2 linked regions of the Homo sapiens genome follow. The protein of the gene in region 1 interacts with the protein of each later gene in a biochemical or structural test. Each region holds a gene or a part of one and is shown on either strand. Other genes may lie near its edges. The genes, in order: ABCE1 and RNASEL.

The links.
Region 2: the proteins of ABCE1 (region 1) and RNASEL form a complex in vitro, tested with the Homo sapiens proteins (one study listed by BioGRID).

Annotation. Positions count from the first base shown.
Region 1 is NC_000004.12:145,093,792-145,102,071, forward strand, and holds the start of ABCE1 (ATP-binding cassette sub-family E member 1), read left to right. Parts: upstream 1-4,519; 5' UTR 4,520-4,628; exon of another isoform or gene 4,629-4,780; intron 4,781-8,280. Other genes in the region: ANAPC10 (anaphase-promoting complex subunit 10), read right to left, coding at 2,194-2,320, 3,454-3,543. UniProt on the Homo sapiens protein: Nucleoside-triphosphatase (NTPase) involved in ribosome recycling by mediating ribosome disassembly. Able to hydrolyze ATP, GTP, UTP and CTP. Splits ribosomes into free 60S subunits and tRNA- and mRNA-bound 40S subunits.
Region 2 is NC_000001.11:182,586,145-182,594,222, forward strand, and holds the start of RNASEL (2-5A-dependent ribonuclease), read right to left. Parts: upstream 3,113-8,078; 5' UTR 3,023-3,112; intron 827-3,022; 5' UTR 663-826; coding exon 1-662.

The sequences.
Region 1 (8,280 bases):
AACTCCAAAAAAAGTGAAAAAAAATAGAGTACCCAAAAGCTGTGGGATAATAACAAATGGTCTAGCATATGTATAATTGGATTCCCAGATTCTTAGAAAGATAATAGAGAAGCAATAGGGCAAAAGAAATAATTGAAGAAATAATGGACACAATGTCTTTTACAACCTAGTCTCAAAAGTCATATACCATCAGTTTTGCCTTATTCTACTGGTCCCAGAAACCAATCCTGACACAATTTGGAAGCGGTCCACAGAAGGGCATGAATACCAGAAGGCAAGGATAACTGGGGACCATTTTGAAAGCTAGCTACTACTAATCTGGTGAATGGATAAACAAACTGGTACACCCATATTGTGGAACAGTAATCAACAATAAAAAGGAATAAACTACAGATATGTGCCCCAGCAAAACCCACAAGTGAATTATGCTAAATGAAAGACACTAGACCCAATAAGCTACATACAGTATTTATATCGGCATTCTGGGAAAGGCGAAACCAAAGGGACCCAAAACTGAGCTGTCAGGGGCTTGGAAAGGCCCAGAAGACTGACCATAAAGAGACATGAGGGAACTTTGTGGGATGATGGCAATGTTATATATTCGATTATAATGCTGCTTATATGACTGTACATGTCTGTAAAATTCACAGAACTGTACACCTAAAAAGGGTAAGTTTTATAGTATGTAAATTATACCTCAAGAAAGTGCTCATAGAAAGACAGAGAAGGGAATCTTGAGGGGAAACAGAAGAGGCTTGGTTGAGAGGATGGATACAGGAGTCATAATGTGCAAATAATAAAAGTTTCTGAAAGAAAGATGACTACTAAACTAATAACATTATAAAGTCCCTCAAGCTAAAGAAATTTCTCCAAGCTTGAGTCTGCAGGTGAAAACTGCCTATAAAATTATGGGTTACAAGGGTGAGAAAAGATATCTGGCAAATGCCATGAACTCAAGAATAAAGAGAAAAACCTTAGATGCTTCCAGAAAAAAACAAGTTACTTAGGAAAAAAAAAAAAGAGAGGTAGGCATAGGCCTTTATATCCACAACATGGCAAAAGAAGATAGTGAAAGAGCATTCATAAATTTTTGAGAGAAAAGGACTGCCACCCAAGAATTCTATCCCAACAAAGAGTAAAAGGAAAGTATTTTGGCGTATGTTATCACTCATTTATCCAATTGAGAGAAACGGCCAAAAAAAATAAATGAATAACAACTGAATCATAGTAGAGATAGAGGAGGAAAAGAGAAGACCTTATGACATATGTAATTAAATCTAACTAGGGAATAGTAAAGAAATTGGACAGAGATATATGATAAAAAAAAATTCAGTGCATTAGAATTAAAATAAAGCATCTAAACAAAAGGAATATTAAAATCAGACCAGTGTACAGTAGTATCTTTATCTGCAGTTTCATCTCCGCAGTTTCAGTTACCCTTGGTCAATCATGGTTCAAAATATTAAAAGGGAAATTCCAGAAACAAACAATTGGTAAGTTTTAAACTGTGTACTGTCTGAGTAGTGTGAAGAAATTTCTCACCATCCTGCTCCATCCCACCCAAGACATAAATCATCACTTTGTCCAGCACATCCACCACTTTGTCCAGCACATCCACCACTTTGTCCAGCATATCCACACTGTGTATACTACCTGACCGTTAGCCATCAACATCATCTGCTCCTGATATCCAATCATCAACATCATCGTGGCTTGATGATCCAGAATCACCAGAAGCAGATGCTCCTCCTTCTGAAGTATTGTCAGAAGGTTAATAGTAGCCTAACACTACATCACAACACCTACATTCTTCACCTCACTCGCTCTCATCACATAGACATTTTATCTCTCACATCATCGCAGGAGGAAGGGTACAATATAATATTTTGAGAGCGAGAGAGACCACTTTCACAAAACTTTTATTACTTTATTACTTCTATTGTTATAATTGTTCTATTTTATTATTAATTATTGTTAATCTCTTACTGTGCCTAATTTATAAATTACACTTTATCACAGGTATTTATGTATAGGAAAAAACATAGTATTAATATAGAAAGGGTTCAGTACTATCCATGGTTTTAGGCATCCACTGGGAGTCCTGGAATGTATCCCCTGGGATAAGGGGAGATGCCTGTACAAGGAAACTGCAAGTGACTATTTCCAACAGCTTTTTTGTTTGTTAGTTTTTACCTGGTTTGCAAGATGAGAGTGACCAAACAGCTTGTGACCCAATTTCCCGTACTGTTCCAGTCCTTTCCAACTGCTTGGGGTCAGCACCAGGAGGTGTCTTGTTTGGTGTAGTCATTTTTAAAATATTCTATGTAGAAAACAAGAATGCACACATTGTATCAGGAACTGGGCATCTTTCTACAAAAGTTTTTTACCAAGAAAAATTTAATGGAACTCATATACCCTGACATTAATCATTTATTCTGAAGAATGCAGTTAATATAATTAAATCACTGTAATTTAAATCTTAGGGGCTGGGCATGGTGGCTCACACCTGTAATCCCAACACTTTGGGAGGCTGAGACAGGAGGATCATGTGAGCCCAGGAGTTCAAGACCAGCCTGGACAACATGGCAAGACCCCATCTCTATTTTTAAATAAATAAAAATCTTAGGAATTCAGGTTTTGTTTCATATGACCAGATATGCAAAGCAGTGAGCTATAGTAGTCAAAAGAGCACAGAATCAAAGTTTTGGCTTCAGTATCTCCTTTAATCAGCCTAGACTTTGAGTAGGTCTGGGCTTTATTTCCTCTCCTGTTAAAGAGGTTCACTTGATGATTTTTACTTCTACAATGCTATGCAGTTCTATAATTCTGTGCCTGAAAATTCAAATGACTTTTAGCCCTAGAAAAGTCAGACTGAAATACTTTTATTCTAGGAATATATAAATATTGATCCTCATTTTATTTACTTAATTCCTTTTTTTTTAGAGACAGGATCTAGCTATGTTACCCAGGCTGGTCTTGAACACCTTGCTTCAAGCGATCCTCCCACCTCAGCCTCCCAAGTAGCTGGGATTACAGGTGTGATCCCATCACCCCACTAAGATCCTCATTTTAAATATTCATTGAGTGATGCAGAGAACAGTCATACCTGCCCTCTAGCTGTCAAAAGTTTTATTTAAGACCCAGCCCGGTGGCTCACACCTGTAATCCCAGCAGTTTGGGAGGCCAAGGCAGGTGGATTGCTTGAGCCCAGGAGTTCGAGACCAGCCTGGAATATGGTGAAACCCTGTCTCTAAAAAAATTCCAAAAAATCAGCCTGGTGTGGCGGCACACACCTGTAGTCCCAGGGGGGCTGAGACAGGAGGATCACCTGAACTGGGAGGCGGAGGTTGCAGTGAGCCGAGATCGTGCTACTGCACTCCAGCCTGCGTAACAGAGCAAGACACTGTCCCAAAAAGCACAAAAATAAGAAAAAAATGTTAAAAGTTCACTTACATATGCTCTTACCATAGAAGATAAGGTCAGGAAAATGGCTTCAAGATTTTGAAGTGAATAACTGGCCCATTCTAAAAAGGTTGACCTCATCTTTCACATCTTTTGTTAATTTTACTAAGTCTATTCATATGTGAAAAAACACTTCAATACTGGATCGTGAACAATATGTAAAACTGCTTTGGTAGCGCAGTTACTGCTACTGAACATTGTTATATATGCTATTCAAAATAGGTGCAATAGTTCTGCATACCGTTTCCTTGACACCTCCCATTGTATCCGAAGTTGTTCTTTAATCGGCACACAAGCACTTGATACTTACTAAATAACGGCAGACACAACGGACTGTAAACTTTGGCAAGGCCTGAGGCTTAAACGCTCAATAAGTAATTTACTGAATGAATAAACAGATGAATAGGTTCAGTTATGAACTAGTTGTCACTTGCCTGCAAGTTAGGTGAGATCTAGGGCGAGACTATTCAACCTGCAACCATCATTACTAACTGAATGTCCTGTTACCTAAAAAAAGATAGAAATAAAGCCCATCTTTAGGGCAGAATTCAACTGCCGGACTTGGGACTGGACGCCACCAAGTGGATAAAATATGGAGCTCGGAAAAGATTGGATTCCCGGCCCTGAACTGACCACACAGTTGAGAGGAAGTTGAGGCCTAGAAGAGCGCGCAACAGTAAGCCGTGTCGGCACCAGACTCTGTTGGTCCTACTGACACCTCCAGCGTTAGAATGACTAAGGCTCCACTCCTGACCCACCGGCCTTGAGGAAAGCGCAAACGTAAAAAAAGATTGAAACCGGAGAGGCGAATGCATCTGTTTACGCTAGGACCACGCTCGACGTCGGAGAAAAGCCCACACACTCACAGTTTCCAGACCTGGCTGCTTGCCGAAACTCAGATTCTCGGCACCTCCAGCAGCTGGCTTCGCCAACGGCGTTGAACAAGGGTCGCAGCTCAATGACGTCATATCTCCCTACCTACCTCCAGGGTTCCGCCTCACGCTCTATGTCGCGCGCGCGCACTACGTCCTATGGCTTGCGCGTGCGGCGGCTGGGCACCGCCATTTTGGCCGGTGGCCGTGAGAACACGCTGTGTGGCTGAAAAGTGAAGGCAAGAGCTGATTTGGCCTCTGTGCTCCCCTCCGCAAGGGGATCGTTTTCTCCAGGTACGTGAATAGCCCGGAGAGGTTTGGCCGTTAGCTGCCATCTGCCAGGTTGGAAAGAATGTAGGGACGTTCTCCGAGAGCCTTTGGTTAGGCCTTAGGTGGCGGAGACAGCAGCAGCGCGTGGCAGCGGTTCCTGCGGGACAGCTGGAACTGATGGAGCGCGGGCGACGCCGAGAGCTTGGGGGCGCCTCGGTCTTCCCCTCCAGCCGACCCGGCTGTCGCCGCTGTTGCCTGCCACACCCGCGAGGGACTTCGAGAATGGACCTAGATGCCGTAGTCTCCACTCCCCCTTTACCCCACTCCCGCCCTGAAGCTAAACCTGCTGGAGAGGAAGGCACCTTTAGAACTTACAGCACTCTCTAGTACCCCCACACTCCTCCAGCACCCAAAATGGATATATTGTCACATGTGCATATTTGGTTGTGGGAAGTCGTGGCTTCCACGTTTTGTTGAGTGGAATGAGTCATGGCATCTTGCCGCCATGAAGTCGAATACTCGCTGTCCACTCCCAGGCTTTATAGAAATGATGCCCACATGTCACTCTGCTTTTCTCAGAACAGCGTGTACGCAGCTATGACTGGGGTTGTCCCAAGTAGTTTCCCAGTAGAAATCCTATAGTTTTTTTGGTACGCTTTTGTAGCACTAGGCACTTTCTCCCCTTACCCGTTTTTCCTTTTATTGTATCTAATACTCATTGAGATCAAGGTTGATGTCTTTACTCAGAATACCTTTATTATCTCTTCAGGGCTTCGTACATTGTAGGCATTTAATACGTATTGTGAATGAATGACAGCCAAAGCCGAATTCCCACCTCCCATTAACTACATAAGCTTATTTTCTCTTTTTTGATGGTAAAAATCTATAAGAGGAAGAACTGTCCAAATAACATGTTTTATTTTTTTACTCTTTCCCAACAGGACTGCTAACTAGTCATTTATGATAGTGGCATTTATGTTGCAGTAGTTTGTCCCATATTCTGAGAATATTCATTGTATACCAGCCACCTGACACTAATACTTTGTTAGTGTAACCAAAGGCTCAGAACCTGTATTTGAACCAAAAGCTGTTTGGGGTTTGTGAGCTTTTTGAGAACTTAGTTCTCCCCTATTTTAAAAAAGGGAGTTTTTTTGTTTGTTTGTTTGTTGGAAGAGCATCTAACAATTGGGAGAGAGGGGGAGAAAACAATATTAAGTTAGAGTTCTTCTAAATGTCTTAAACTTAAAACTCTTTGAAATCAGAGCCGTGTACCACTCCTAACTTCTACGTGTTTTGTAAGACTAATAAACTACAATAAGCATGGGTTAGACTATTTCATGTGATACTAAACATCATTAGTTAACAGCAGTCTTTGAAATGCTTTTACACAGCGTTACAATTATTTTGGCTTTAGACTGTAAATGCTTCTAAGTATTCCTCACTTCCTTTTTTCCTCTCAGCTGTAAGAATGACACTGAGGGTCATTGTTCTAGTGTCAATTTTGAACACTTTTGTCTTCGAATCTGAAATATCCGCAAATCCTTCTTTGTTTGCAGGAGCCTGTTAACTATAATCTTCCTCTCCAAGCTTTACTGTGCCTAGGTTTTCTATTGAAAAACAAGTAGGGAATCCCCTTGCCCCAATTATTGAAACTGATACAGAAATTGAATTAAAAGTGTTCACACAGTTAATTAACAGTTCTACAAAGAATCCATGTTCATTTTTCTTAAATGCATTACAATTTATCACTATTTTTATATAAATCAGTTTATTAACCACTTCTGGTATGTTTTTATTCTACTGTAAAAATCAAGCCAGGGTAGTGACATGCACCTATAGTCCCAGCTATTCGGGAGGCTAAAGCAAGAGGATCCCTTGAGCCCAGGAGTCCCAGTCTGTAGTGTCCTGTGATCACTGCCCTCAGCCAGGACACCATAGCAAGATCCCTGTGTCTTTTTAAAAAATTGTCTTTTACAGTCTTTTGGTTTTTAAAATAGTTTGAAAAATTAAATATTTTAGTAGTTTAACAGAAATAAAGTTTAAGCAATTTCGTGGTGATTTATCCCCTGGAGGGGAATTCATTATGCTCTTTCACTGAGTAATTGTAGAAAGGCATTCAGTATTTAAATTAGAATGCATGGTGTCCAGTTTTAATAGCTTGCTGAAGAATCTTCATTTCCTAGGAAGTTGTCATTTCCCGAATAATAGCTTTTTTGTGACAATTCAAGCCATCTAATTTCTTCCTCTTCTAATCTTTACAAGACCTGGACCAGTTTTTAGAGGAATAGAGTCAACCTGTTTATTGGAATAACCCTGTACTTATTACATGAACATTTAGTCTCCTTTTGAATGATTTTTTTTTTCAGTATGTAGTTTAGTGGACAACTGTCACTATAAAATATTGGTAACTTGCAAGATTTCTAAAGTTGTTATAACCTACAGGAAAATTATTTACTATATTTAAATTCATATTCTCATTCATTTAGCAGAAATGCTTGATCTCCTGTGTGCTAGGCACAGGTTCAGCCACTGGAATGAACAAAAATTCCTACCCTCATGATGGATGGAGTACATTCTACTTGGGGAGGGGAAAAATGTGTATGTGTTTGTAGAGAGACAATATACATACACACACCCACGATAGATGTGTGCATATACACCAGATATATATAAAAAAAATATATATATGGAATATATAGTATGTCATATAGTTGAGCTAGGGAGAAAAATAAAGCAAGAAAGAAGGATGAAGAGGCAGTTGGGTGTATTTTTCGGTAGTGTATATTGTGGTAGTGTAGTTACAAAAGGCTCACTGAGAAATAGTAAAGATTGAAAGGAGTAAGCCATGTAACTCTCTAGGGGGAATAGCATTACAGGCAGAAAGTGCCAAGATCTTGAAGCAAGAACATGCCTGGCATGTGCTAGGAACAACAAAGAGCCAATGTAGCTGGAGCCATACAAGAGCTAGAGTAGTTGGAGATGAGATCAGAAAGTTAACAGAGGCTGATCAATGCCTCATTGATTATTTTCAGGACTTTGGCATTTACTCAGATTGAGAATGAAGCCATTGCAGGATTTTAAATAGAGGAGTGACATGATCTAGCTTACTCTTTAAAAGGCTTCCTATGGTTCCTGTGTTGAGAATGAACTGTTGAGGGTTAGAGTAGAAAGAGGTGAGGGTAAAAGCAAAGAGATCTGTTAGGAAGCTATTTGAGTGATGCTGGTAAGAGATGATAGTGATAGCTTACACCAAACTCATGAGATCAGATTCTGGATGTTTTATAGCTTCAGTGGGATTTGCTGTTATTAGGTGGAAAAGAAAATGACTTCAAGGATTTGGGCCTGAGCAAATGGAAGACTGGAGTTGCCATCTAACAAAATGGGCAAGACTGCTGAAATTTTGGTGAGGATATCAGGAGCTTAGTTGGGAGATTCCTCTTAAGCCTTCCAGAGATGTTAGGTGGGCAGGAAGGGTTCAAGAGAGGTATGCTGACTAAAGATAGAAATTTGGAAATTTGCAGTATATAAATGGAATTTAAACCTGTGAGACCAGAATAGAACAACTTGGGGAATGAGTATATGTGGAAAAAAATGACCAAGTCTTAGAGCACTCTGCATTTAGAAGCCTGGGAGATGAAGATGAGTGACCAGGAAAACAGTAGAAAAACCAGATTAG
Region 2 (8,078 bases), on another chromosome or scaffold:
ATAGCCTCCACATCACTATCGTCAGAGCTCAGGAGAGCATGGATCAAGGCATTTCTGCCCATATTGTCACAGGCGTTTACATCTGCCCCCATCTCATCAAGGAGAATCTTCAAGACCTCTACGTGTCCTTTTTCAGCAGCGTCCATGAGAGCTGTGGCCCCTCCTTTCCTCAGCCGCTCTTGATCCTCCTTTGTCTTTCGCCTCAAATTCACATTTGCTCCTCTCTTATAAAGGAATTTTAGGGCTTTGACCTTACCATACACAGCGGCTTCCATGAAGGCTGTGAAGCCATAAAAATCACACTCATTGACATCTGCTCCTTTAGAAAGGAAAAGTTTCAGCAGCTTCACGCTCCCCGCAATCGCTGCGAGGATAAAAGGCGTGGCCCCATTCTTCTTCCTCAGAACAGGGTCAGCACCATGACGAAGCAGAAGTTCCACAATGTCCTCCCTGCTCATTTGTACTGCGTTATGCAGAGGTGTCCAGCCCCCTTCCTCTTCCTGGAAATTAACATTGGCTCCACCTTCCAGCAATTGCTGGACCAGGTCAACATCTTCGTTTTGAACAGCTTTAATCAGCAAGTGATTGTCTTCCACTGCAGCCCTTCTACCGCTGGAGGACGTGGGTCCCTCCTGGGGGTTGTTATGATCCCTGCTCTCCATGACGGTAAATGCCACCTGCTACCACTTTTAGCCTTTTCCTTGAGAAAATGCAAATTTATCTCCTAGCACTTAATCAAAGAAGCTTTGAGTGTAAATTGGGATTCTCTGGCAACAGAGCAGCAGTATGAAGAAGGAACAATGTTCTCAGTCTTCTGACATTCCACCTGGCAACGAAGAGAGGTGCTTTGTAATTTTACAATAGGGAGAAAACACTTGAATCAGAGAAATTAATTATATTAGCATTTTTTCTAAATACATATATTTATTTCTTATAAAACTTTTAAATTACAGAATATTATAAATATATGTAAATTCAAAATAAGAAAATTATTTCTCTAGTCCCAATGCCCAGAAACAGCCAATGTTAATATTTTAGTGTATTTCTATATATTTTTTAAGACATTTGGAATTATACTCTGTAAGTAACTGTATCCTACTTCCTTTCATTTAATACCATACTATAAGTCATTTCCTGTGTTATTGCAAAGTCTTGTAAAACATTTTTCATGACTATGTAATATGAAATCATACAGTTGTTTCATTTCTCTATTACTGAGTGGTTTTCAAAAATAAGTTTTAAAGGGTTTTTTAAAATTAAAAATTTAAAAAATCTAAATGATGTTGCAGCAAATTCAGCTTATTTTAGTTTATTTTCTTTCGATAGATCTTATGATAGATTTCATATGATAGACTTCAAAGAATTTAATGACTATTCAAAAGATATGATTGTATTTAGGATTCTTAACCTATATTAACAAATTGCTTTCAATGTCATATAAATATATTCTTACCAGAGATAGGTGGCTTCCAAAAAAAAAAAAAAAAGACCATGAAAATATGCACATCAATTATTTATCAATAAAAAAAGAAGAACCCTCATTCAATAAGAAAAATATATTTCTTGGCTTTTTTTCCCTTTGCATTTCTTATGTCACCAGGAAGGTTGATCACTGTGTTTGCTGACTCTGTGCATGTCCTCTTTGTACAACCCTGTGCCCCTATTTAAAGTACAGACAATATCTGACTTATGTTTTTTGACTTTGATTTATGATTTTTTGACTTTGCAGTGGTGGAAAAGCAATAAACATTCAGTAGAAACCACACTTCAAGTACACATACAACCATTCTGTTTTTTATTTCAGCATAGCATTCGATAAATACATGAGACATTTAACACTTTATTATAAAATAAGCTTTGAGCTAGATGATTTTGCCCAACTGTAGCCTAATGTAAGTGTTCTGAGCACATTTAAGGTAAGCTAGGATAAGCTATGACGTTCAGTAGATTAGGTGTATTAAATGTGCTTTTGACCTACAATATTTTCAATTTAGGATGGGTTTATCTGTATGTAACCCCATCATAAGTCAAGGAGTATCTGCAGTAGTGAAAAGAGCTTGTACTCTGACCTTAGGGAGATCTAAGTTTGAGCTTGTGGCTGTGTAATTTTTTACTATTACTTCCTGTAACCTTGGATTGTTGAATCTCAATTTTCTATTTCCTGAAATGGAGACAAAAATAAATACAGTCATGTGTGTAAAGTACATTAAAGTATGGAGTGTTGCAAATATTAGCCACTCAATGAATGTTAGAGCTAATTATATCCCGTTATGAAAAAATAAATTGCTTAGTGAATTCTATTCTCCCTACACATGTGCATATAGCTACTACACGAATAGGCAACTGGCAGCTATCAATTTCGTCCAACTGTCAATCAGATCTGAGAATTACAGATCCAGTTCAATCATCAGACAGCCCGAAACTGTTACCTGAATATTTAAATAACTGCATCTGCTATAGAATTCACGAAGCAACCCTTTTTCAGCAATCTCACCACTCTGACAGTTTCAAAGCCTCAGAGGTTAATTGATTAGCCTCTTAGAAGTTTAATTAATTGTGCAACACATACACGATCACCAGGCAATGAAATCTTTGAACCAAAGTGTTTGTGTAGACCGTCCCCATTACAATCAGATGTGAGGTGGGCTGGTATAAACAAAGGAGCCGGGAAGGAGAGGAAATATCAAGGAAGCCCTGAGTGACGCATCAGAGTAGAGAAGAGACGAGCCTGCGGAAGTACTCCAACAGACAATCCTGCTTTCAATTTCACTTTCTCTGTGCGACCTGAGTAAGTCGCAAAGAGATGCCTGAGAAACTGAGGACATGGATAAATGACGTGTGGACTCTGACAGAACTCTGGAAGGGCACTGGAGGAAGATCCTTCCGGGCAGCCAAGGGCTGGGAGCTCCCCTCCCACTTCCCAAGTCCTCCAGCCCCTGGCCTCTCCAGTCTCCAAAGCCCAAGAATTCTTCAGGATCGACTTATCGAGGTTTTCTAGCTTTCCTCCTTCTGCCTGCCTTACCTGCTCAACTCAGACGTCTCAATTATTCCTTTGGCAGCCGCAAAGCCTGGAAGACTGCTTGCAGCCCGAGCAGTTTCCTCCTGCTGCGTCACTGAGTCAGCAGGGCGGAGCCAAGAAAGGAGTGAGGAGTGTGGGAGGGAAAGCAGCCACAGGCTCACTCTGGCACCAGGAGCAAAGCTTCTACTTGCACACCTTCTGGAGGAAAGCAATAGCCACTTTCTGTCTGCTGATGAGGAATGTGATGCCCGGGGTCATGTCACTCACCTCTCAGTCTTGCAGCCTTTCAGGTGGCAGCAGCCAACTGCATCCATCACTCTTGCATCCTTTCTTTGTCATTGCAAATTCTGGTCTTCTTGGAAGAAAGGAATGGAAAGTAAACACATATTGAGCACCTATTGTGTTCCAGACACAATGCTTTACATGCAGCATGGTCCCAGTTAACCCCTGACAATCTTGTTGATTATGAAACGCAGGCTCATAGAAGCTAAGTAAGCCCAAAGCCCAAGCCCTGTCACCTTTCTCAGCTCACTCAACTCACAGCTCTGAGGCAGTGCGGCCTTCTCAGAAGGGTACCGGACTGGCAGTCTGGAGACCTGATCCTACAGCCAGCTCTGTGGCTGCTTAGCTGAGTGACCTCAGGCATGTGATTTAACCATGTAGGGCCTCAGTTCTCTCCTATAACTTGGTTTTGAAGGTTCCTTTCTGCTCTACAAGTTCTGTTCTTGACTATCTTCCTAGCAATGAGCTGTGTACTGTGTACTTAGTGCTGTAGTGGAAAGTATTTCCATCCCCAAAGAATACCCAGTCTTGCTGGGGAGACAAAGCCCTGGGACTTGTGAACAACAAGTAGTGCATGGTCACTTGACGACCACCTGTGTCACACCATCCAGACCCGGGGCCTCTACCACCCCTTATACACCAGGGATTCCCAGGCCTCGCTCTCTAACCCCAGCCTCTCTGCTGAGCTTTAGACCTACAAATCTTGAATATGTGTCAAATGGAAATACTCATCTTTTCCTAAATCTGCCCCTCCTCCCACTTATTCCATCTCCACAGATGGCACCATCACCCGGAGGCCACCCCTCATCCTCATCCCAACACCAAGTCTCTTGCTTTCATCTACAAAGGGATGACCATTCGAGTCCTTGTCATCATTTATAGCAAGAAATTGATGACTTGCTTCCTAGCCCTTCATCCATTGTTCCACCCTGCATCATTGACCCACCATCATTTTCAGGACAAAGTTCAAAAATCCTTAACCCATTATTCATTTAATTAATACTTGTTGGACAGGCGTGGTGGCTCACACCTGTAATCCCAGCACTTTGGGAGGCCAAGGCAGGCAGATCACCTGAGTTCAGGAGTTCAAGACCAGCCTGGCCAACATGGTGAAACCGCGTCTCTACTAAAAATACAAAAAGTAGCCAGGTGTGGTGTTGTGCACCTGTAATCCCAGCTACTCGGGAGGCTGAGGCAGGAGAATTGCTCGAACCCGGGAGGTGGAGGTTGAAGTGAGCCAACATAGTACCACTACACTCCAGCCTGGATGACAGAGCAAGACTCCGTCTCAAAAAAAAAAAAAAAACTTATTGAGCACTGACTATGTTACCAGTGACTATTCTGCATATCTGGCATAGAATGATTTACCACACCAGTTCCTCACAGAGTTCTTCTAGGAGCTTGCATCTTAATAGGCAGAAATAGATCATAAACAGTTGAAAAACCCAACATATCATGATTTCAGGTTATAATACAGTCCCTGCCTGTCCCTACTCCTCATGGGCATCATCAGTGCTAGCCTCCAGTTCCTTGTCACATTATGTCATATGCTTCTACCTCTATATCTTGACCTATGCTGCCTTGCTACCAGAACTAATGATATTAGTAAGAGTGATGAAAATGTGGATGATTCTGTTAATAATGACAAACATTTACATAGCTCTTTAATATGGTCCAGGAACTGTTCTGAACACTTTATATATGTATTAAATTATTTAATCTTATCCTTATGATGTATATACTATTTTTGTCTCCGTTTTGCAGATAAGAAAACTGAAGCATAAAGTGGTTAAGTAACTTGCTCTAAGGATTTGATCTATATCACTGAACATCACAGAGAAACAGCTTGTCCCCATTCTTTTCTTTTTTTTTTTCTTTTCAAGACGGAGTCTCACTCTGTCACCCAGGCTGGAGTGCAGTGGCGCGATCTTGGCTCACTGAAACCTCTGTCTCCTGGGTTCAAGCGATTCTCTTGCCTTAGCCTCCTGAGGAGCTGGGATTACAGGCACACACCACCACATCCAGCTAATTTTTGTATTTTTAGTAGAGATGGGGTTTCACCACGTTGGTCAGGCTGGTCTCAAACTCCCGACCTCATTATCCATCCACCTCAGCCTCCCAAAGTGCTGGGATTACAGGTGTGAGTTTTTTGAGATGGAGTCTTGCTCTGTCACCCAGGCTGGAGTGCAGTGGTGTGATCTCGGCTCACCACAACCTCCACCTCCCAGGTTCAAGTGATTCTCGTGCCCCAGCCTCCCAAGTAGCTGGAATTACAAGCATGAGCCACCATGCCTGGCTAATTTTTGTATTTTTAGTAGAAACAGGGTTTCACCATGTTGGCCAGGCTGGTCTCGAACTCCTGACCTCGAGTTATCCACCCACCTCGGCCTCCCAAAGTTCTGGGATTACAGGTGTGACCCACCATGCCCAGCCCCTGCCCCCATTCTTACTGAAGCAAGATAATGAACAAAATAAGTAAATCATGTAGTGTATTGTAGGCAACAAATCTACAGAAAATATTAAGATAGAATAAGGAGGGTTAAAAGTGCCAGGATGGGGATGGGGATATTAAACAAAGTAGTCGGGAAGGGTCTTGTTCAGAAGGTGACGTTTGAGCAAAGACTTGCGGAAGATGCAGCAACAGGCTATGCAGATGTCTGCACCAAGAACACAGCAGACAGAGGAAACAGCAAGCACACAGGTCCTGAGGTGGGAGCATGCCTGGTGGGAACAAGCAGCAGCAAGGAGGCCAGTGAGGCTGGAGCAGAGTGAGGGAGGGGAGTTGATAAGCAGAGGTTCAGGTCAGGCGCGACCTTAGGGCCCGTTGTAAGGCTTTTGGCTTCCACACTAAACAACATGGTAGCCATTGGAGTATTGGAGCAGAGGAGTAACATGATCTCCATGGCTTTTTTTTTAGAGGATCTTAATCAGTCCTGTGCTGAGAAGAATCTGGGGATTGAAAGCAAAGGGAGAAGTTGGAAAATCCGTTAGAAGGCTATTGCAATAATCCAGCTGAGAGTCAACGGTGGCCCAGACCAGGGTGGTAGCATAGTGGTAACAGTGGATGTTAGTTTGTCCTGAACAGATGATTTGGTAAAAACTCTTGGAGAATGCTGACCTTTCTGGTCATAATGACATATGTTAAAGTCTAGTGAGCAGAATCATACCTACAGTGAAACCAAGGCAAGTGTATTACCAACTACAGCGAGGGAGGACTCATCCCAGGAACTGCAGAGTATTTTTTTTTTTTTTTTTGAGATGGAGTCTTGGACTGTCACCTGGGCTGGAGTGCAGTGGTGTGATCTCGGTTCACTGCAACTGCTGCCTCCTGGGTTCAAGCGATTCTCCTGCCTCAGCCTCCCGAATAGCTAGGATTACAGGTGCCTGCCACCACGCCCAGCTAATTTTTCTGTATTTTTAGTACAGACAGGGTTTCATCATGTTGGCCAGGCTGGTCTCGAACTCCTGACCTTGTGATTCGCCCACCTCAGCCTCCCAAAGTGCTGGGATTATGGGCATGAGCCACTGCGCCCTGCTTTTTTTTTTTTTTTTTAAGAGACATGATCTTGCTGTGCCACCCAGGCTGGAGTGCAGTGGCACAATCATATAGATCATATAGCTCATTGCAACCTCAACTTCCTGGGCTCAAGTGAACCTCCTGCCTCAGCCTCCCAAATAACTAGGACCCATTGTGAGGCATGCACCACCATGCCCGGCTAATTTTTAAAATTTTTTGTAGAGATGGGTTCTCACTGTGTTGCCCAGGCTGATTTTGAACTCCTGGCTTCAAGCAATCCTCCAGCTTTGTGCTCCCAAAGCACTGAGATTATAGATGTGAGCCATTCCACCCAGCCCCAGGATATCTTCTAAAAGGGAATCAGGATACTTATTTTAGGGTTTGAGCTTTTTGTCAGGTGATTTGGGGAAGGGTTTAAGGAAATAGAGGTTTGTTCTCAATTGGGTGGTGTCAGGAAGCAGAAGCACTTTGGTGCCTTCATTATGATCATCTAGGAATCAGGAGGAACAAAGTGTAGCTAGCACTGTCACTGCTCAAGGAACAGGTGGCTCATGTTACCCAGGAGAGGGGGTGTTGGTTACTTTTATGGTGGTATGGCATCTTTTCTTCACCTCGTGTTCAGTCCTCATTAAGAAGTGGCCTTATTTCTGTCTTGTTCCACTGTAGTCATAGGACAACATCATCAATTATTGTTGGCATTCTGCAGAATTGTTTTGTTCCATGGGAGCCAGGAGTATCAAGGAGGGGGGTGCCCCAAGAGACAGGTGGAGTCTGACAACAGTCCTGGCAGAAGGAGAGATCAGTCTGTCCACAAAGAGACCCCAGTCGCTGCTGGTTCAGAGGCCCAGACTCTGAAGACAGAATCACCAAGAGCAGAAGAGACCCCTCCCAGCAGTGGATGCGAATTCCAGGCTGGGAACATGGAGAGAGAAACCAAGGCCAAGGTGAAATGTAAGGATACCTTCCTCCTTCCCTCTGGCTCCCTCCTTCCCACACTCAAGATGTTAGAATTAAGCAATGTTCTTAACCTTTCCTTCCTTTGACAAGAAAGATCGCTGGGACTGCAGAGATTTTCTCTAAGCTTAGGAATAAATTGCATTTTACTTGCCAAAAGCCCTTCTTGGATCTTGGTGAGAAGACAATGGGGTCGAATTGATCACTGCACTCCAGCCTGGGTGACAGAATGAGACCCTGTCTCAAAAAGAAAAAGAAGAAAGAAAGAGAGAAAAGAAAAGAAAGAAAAGAAAAGAAGAAAGAAAG